Linked DNA regions of Homo sapiens: region 1 is linked to region 2. Evidence: fine-mapped expression QTL. A gene starts in region 2. The other region holds a variant in brackets. All regions are shown on one strand. Distances are between the middles of the regions. Region 1 overlaps LIAS (lipoic acid synthetase). Region 2 holds the start of KLB (klotho beta).

Region 1 (2,924 bases), 70 kb after region 2:
GAGGATCACCTGAGCCCAGGAGGTTGAGGCTGCAGTGAGCTGTGATCGTGCCACTGCACTCCAGCCTGGGTGACAGAATGAGACCCCGTCTCAAAAATAAATAAATAAAAATAGTAATTTAAAACATTTTAATGAACTAGTAGCTCATCATAGTTTGAAAACCCAAGAATTTGATTCAGCACTGAGTGACAGAATGTGGGGACTTTGAAAACCAGTAATTGTAAGTGATTTAGTCTTCAAGCAGCACTGCTGGCAAGCTAAAAATACATGTGAAGGATAGAACCACTATCAGCTTCTAGAATGGTTAGAGTAATGTCCTTTGAAAGGAGTTTTTCTTTTGCTAAAGAAAAATTTCTAACATAAAAGGAAGTAAATTATGAACTTTCTGATGCTTTCTAAATTACCAGGAAAAGATCAGATTCTGGTATATGATGAGCATTAGACTAAAATGATGGATTAGGGTCTGATAAAGTTGGTGCTACTCCCACGACATTTGGAGGAGGTATGGAGCAGCATGGATTACTTGGCTGGGTTATGAGCCTTGGGATTTGCAGAGATTATATGTAGATAGACTCATCACAGTTCTACTCATATGTAAGATGACAAAGAGAAGTTAATCAGACTCCTCATAAAATCAGGCCTCTAGTGCTGCACTCTACCAATAAGCATTGAGTCATGCTGTAAGAGCAATAGACTAAATGGAACACTAATGGCCTAAAAAGAGAATGTGCCCTCTAAGCTGCTAACTTATTGCGTAGGCACAACTCAGGCGGTGGGGAGAAAGCCCATTACAAATGAAGAGCTCTTGCTTCCCTAGAGGGGAATAAGCTAAAGAGATTCCATCAGATGCGTCTGCTCAGCTGCAACGAGATCTGTTTTATAAACATCAGATCCAGCCTAATAATGTAGCAAAATTGCTCTTGGAAATGAATTTTGCCAAGAGCAATACTTTGACAGTGATGAGGGATAGATAGTGCACATAAAGTAGAATTAATGTGCAGACCCATATATACAGTAGGGTCACCCTTTGTAATATTGGCTTACTAGAAAGAATAATAGTAGGAGACTCTAGTCATTATTGCTGGGGAGAAAGGCCAAAGATAATAGGGGATATTTAGGTTAGAAAAATATTGCCATTGAGGTTTGAGAAGAGAGAAGTGCCAATAAATACAAAAGTCTTCTTTAAAGGGGGAACACCAAAAATATAATTCTGAAATAGTTGTCTCACTGTTATTTACTTTAAATTGATATTAATGTGTTTTCCTTTTTCCTAAATAGGTGAATTTTTCCTGAAAAATCTAGTGGCTAAAAGAAAAACAAAAGACCTCTAAAACTTCAACAAGACCTTCAAGATCACAGAAATTTTTAAAATTTGATTCCAGTTAATAACAGAGGTGGTGCCAGAATGCCTGGACTGCAGTGGATGT[G/A]CCCCACCTCTTTGCTTAAAAAAAAAAATGTCAATAGCCAGGCATAGTGGCTCACGCCTGTAATCCCAGCACTTTAGGAGGCCAAGGCGGGTGGATCACCTGAGGTCAGGAGTTCGAGACCAGCCTGGCCAACATGGTGAAATCCTGTCTCCACTAAAAACACAAAAATTAGTCAGGCGTGGTAGTGGGTGCCTGTAATCCCAGCTACTCGGGAGGCTAAGGCAGGAGAATCACTTGAACCTGGGAGGGGGAGGTTGCAGTGAGCCAAGATCGCTCCATTGCCCTCCAGCCTGGGTGACAAGAGCAAAACTCCATCTCAAATAAATAAAAAGGAAAAAAAAGTCAATAAACTGTACAAATTTAATTACAGTAATTCATTTGGCTTTTAGTGTATCTTCTTTGTCCCAATTAAACAGTTGCTTGCTGTGATGTAATCTTAAAATATCTTTGTAAGAATTTTCTTTTAACATAATTTTAAAATGCATTAAAAACATGGCATGGTGGCTCACACCTATAATCCCAACATTTTGGGAGGCCAGGGCGGGTGGATCACTTGAACCCAGGAGTTCGAGACCAGCCTGGGCAACATGATGAGACCTTATCTCTACAAAAAATTAGCCAGACGTGGTGGCACGCACCCGTAGTCCCAGCTACTCAGGCTGAGGTGAGAGGATCACTTGAACCTGGAAAGCAGAGGTTGCAATGAGCTGAGGTGGTGCCACTGCTCTCCAGCCTGGGCGCTACAACTGCTCTCCAGACTCTGTCTTGAAAAAAAAACCCAAAAACTTCCAGAAGATTTTCCAATCCACTGTTAACATCATTACATTTCATTTATGAAAAATAAAAACTTCATTTATGTTACTGTGATGAAACAGTCAACATAGATTGAAACTCATCAGTTTAGCATTTCATTCAACTTTAGCATTCATTCAACGTAGATTGAAACTCATCAGATTAGCATTTGTCCTTGTAATATTGGAATAATTTAGAAAGGCTTAAGAGTGAATGTTGGCCAGATGTGGTGGCTCATGCCTGTAATTCCAGCACTCTGAGAGGCCGAGGTGGGCAGATCACCTGAGGTCGGGAGTTTGAGAACAGCCTGGCCAACCTGGTGAAACTCCATTGCTACTAAAAATAAAAAAATTAGCTAGGTGTGTTGGCAGGTGCCTGTAATCCCAGCTACTTGGGAGGCTGAGGCACGAGAATTACTTGAGCCTGTGAAGCAGAGATTGCAGTGAGGCGATATCGTGCCACTGCACTCCAGCCCGGGCAACAGAGTGAGACTGTCTCAAAAAAAAAGTAAATGTTGATTTTTTACATTGGTGTGACTACTTCAGAACCTGCAAAATAGTTTTATGCTGATTACATTTAGTCCCTCTGAAAACACCAAGGCCATAATGCTGCCTAAGACATGGAAATAGAACCTAGAAATATTAACCCTTATTTGTATAGTAGCTTGCTAAATCCACATGCCCTATTCCTTTCATTTCTCACATT
Region 2 (2,924 bases):
TCTAAAGTGCTGGGACTACAGGCATGCACAACCACACCCGGTTAGTTTTTAATTTTTTTTGTAGAGATGGGGCCTTATTATGTTCCCCAGGCTGTAAAACATTAAATTTTTTACAGGTTATTTGGAGGCTATCGATTTGGTACAATATTTCTTTCTGTATGTGCATGTATTTCTTTCTGTATGTTTATCTTTATTCCAGAATCATGCTGAAGGTAGTCTATGCCTTTGCTATTTTCTTTTTCAGGTTTTTCTTTCCTTTTTAAAAATAAATATTGCCTATTCTTCAAGGGAACTTTCATAATAATTTTCTCTTTTTTTTTTTTTTTTTATTTTGAGACCGAGTCTTGCTCTGTTGCCCAGGCTGGAGTGCGGTGGTGCGATCTCAGCTCACTACAACCTCCACGTCCCAGGTTCAAGAGATTCTCCTGCCTCAGCCTCCCAGGTAGCTGGGATTACAGGTGCCCACCACCGTGCCCAGCTAATTGTATTTTTAATAGAGACGGGGTTTCAACATGTTGGCTAGGCTGGTCTCAAACTCCTGACCCCAAGTGATCTGCCTGCCTTGGCCTCCCAAAGTGGTGGGATTATAGCCATGAATCACTGTGCCTGGCCTTTCGTAATAATTTTCTTGAACTAAAATTTGGGATTAGGCCAGGCATGGTGGCTCACACCTATAATCCCAAGCACTTTAGGAGGCCGAGGCAGAAGGGCTGTTTGAGCCCAGGAGTTCAGGACCAGCCTGGGGGACATAGCTAGACCCCACCTCTACCAAAAAATCAAAAATCAGCTGGGCATGGTGGCATGTGCCTGTTGTCCCAGCTACTTGGAGGCTGAGGAGGGAGGATTGCTTAAGCCTGGGAAGTTGAGGCTGCGGTGAGCTGTGATGACACCACTGCACTCCAGCCTAGGCTACAAAGCAAGACTCTTATTAAAAATTAATTAATTAATTAAAAAATTAGAGATTAGAGAATTTTAGTTAAGTTAAATAAATAAAATAAAAAATAAAATTAGAGATTAGAGGATTTTAGTTAAGTTAAATGTATTAAATTGAAAAGTATTTCATTTTTCCATCCACAAAGTGCTATATTTTCTCATTCAAGTCTTCTCTCAAATCTACCAATACATTTTTGCAATTTTCCTAAAATAGGTAACATTTATTAAGATTGTTCTTAGATGCGTTATAATTTTGTGGAGAAGTGTAATTTCTTATTGTGTTTTCTAATTCTTTACTATTGGTATGTAGGAATGCTATATACTTGTATATGTTATTTTTCTTGATATATGAGATTATAAAATTACCACACAAAAACTCTAAAAATAGAAAAGCTATATACCTTATTCAATAATGTTCAAAACATTCAGAAAAGATTTGGGTCAATATGAAAGGCTACACGGAAAATAATGTGATTTTAATCCAGTGTTTACATATGTGTTAGTTACACATTCAAACTCTTGTCACCGATGCATTTTCATCTAATTTTTTCCATAATGAGAGAGAAGGAGACGCGTTGGTGACTGCAATAGGGCCACCTCCCTCAAATTACGTTGCTCTCTATGACCCATCCTCAGTCTCCCAGTTCAAGCTAATCATTGACAGAGCTTTACAATCACAAGCTTTTACTGAAGCTTTGATAAGACAGTCCAGCAGTTGGTGGCAAATGAAGCCAGGCTGTGCGGCAGGATCTCCAGGGAATGAATGGATTTTCTTCAGCACTGATGAAATAACCACACGCTATAGGAATACAATGTCCAACGGGGGATTGCAAAGATCTGTCATCCTGTCAGCACTTATTCTGCTACGAGCTGTTACTGGATTCTCTGGAGATGGAAGAGCTATATGGTCTAAAAATCCTAATTTTACTCCGGTAAATGAAAGTCAGCTGTTTCTCTATGACACTTTCCCTAAAAACTTTTTCTGGGGTATTGGGACTGGAGCATTGCAAGTGGAAGGGAGTTGGAAGAAGGATGGAAAAGGACCTTCTATATGGGATCATTTCATCCACACACACCTTAAAAATGTCAGCAGCACGAATGGTTCCAGTGACAGTTATATTTTTCTGGAAAAAGACTTATCAGCCCTGGATTTTATAGGAGTTTCTTTTTATCAATTTTCAATTTCCTGGCCAAGGCTTTTCCCCGATGGAATAGTAACAGTTGCCAACGCAAAAGGTCTGCAGTACTACAGTACTCTTCTGGACGCTCTAGTGCTTAGAAACATTGAACCTATAGTTACTTTATACCACTGGGATTTGCCTTTGGCACTACAAGAAAAATATGGGGGGTGGAAAAATGATACCATAATAGATATCTTCAATGACTATGCCACATACTGTTTCCAGATGTTTGGGGACCGTGTCAAATATTGGATTACAATTCACAACCCATATCTAGTGGCTTGGCATGGGTATGGGACAGGTATGCATGCCCCTGGAGAGAAGGGAAATTTAGCAGCTGTCTACACTGTGGGACACAACTTGATCAAGGTACTGTACAGCTAGCTTCTTCTTATAGCTTCAGAAAACACTAAGAATTTAAGAATTTACCTTCTGCCTCAGTAATTCTCTTCACTGAAATCAAGGCAACTGATTTTAAGCTAATTCAAAAGATCTATCCTCAAATTTTGCATTTAAGTTAGTGTATGTTTTATTTATCTAAGGTATTTTTAATGTATTAATCCAATTAGTTTTTTCAAAAGTTGCACTTTGAGGCTATTTTTAAATCTACCATTATACACTACAGTGTGAATATATGAGCTTACTTTCATTCTGTGGGAAAACAGTGCTTCATAAATTTAATTGTTGGAACCCTTTTCTGACAACATGCAATCATTTCAGAATTATCTTAAGGCACAACCATTTCAAATATGTATTTGTTGTTAAGTATAGCTAACTTAGCTAATAAGTAAATAAAGTAAGTAAATAAGT

The links. PIP is the estimated chance that this variant, and not a neighbour inherited with it, causes the effect.
Region 1: its variant is fine-mapped to the expression of KLB in testis (GTEx, PIP above 0.99).

The regions. Positions count from the first base shown.
Region 1 is chr4:39,475,785-39,478,708 of GRCh38, forward strand. LIAS (lipoic acid synthetase) reads left to right here. Exons shown (of 11, transcript NM_006859.4): 11 at 1,279-2,924. The coding sequence ends at 1,331. Among named protein-coding and RNA genes, the nearest start is that of LIAS, 18 kb to the left of the region's middle. The variant G/A (reference allele first, on the strand shown) is at 1,428.
Region 2 is chr4:39,405,292-39,408,215 of GRCh38, forward strand. It overlaps KLB (klotho beta), which reads left to right and starts at 1,639. Exons shown (of 5, transcript NM_175737.4): 1 at 1,639-2,483. The coding sequence starts at 1,659.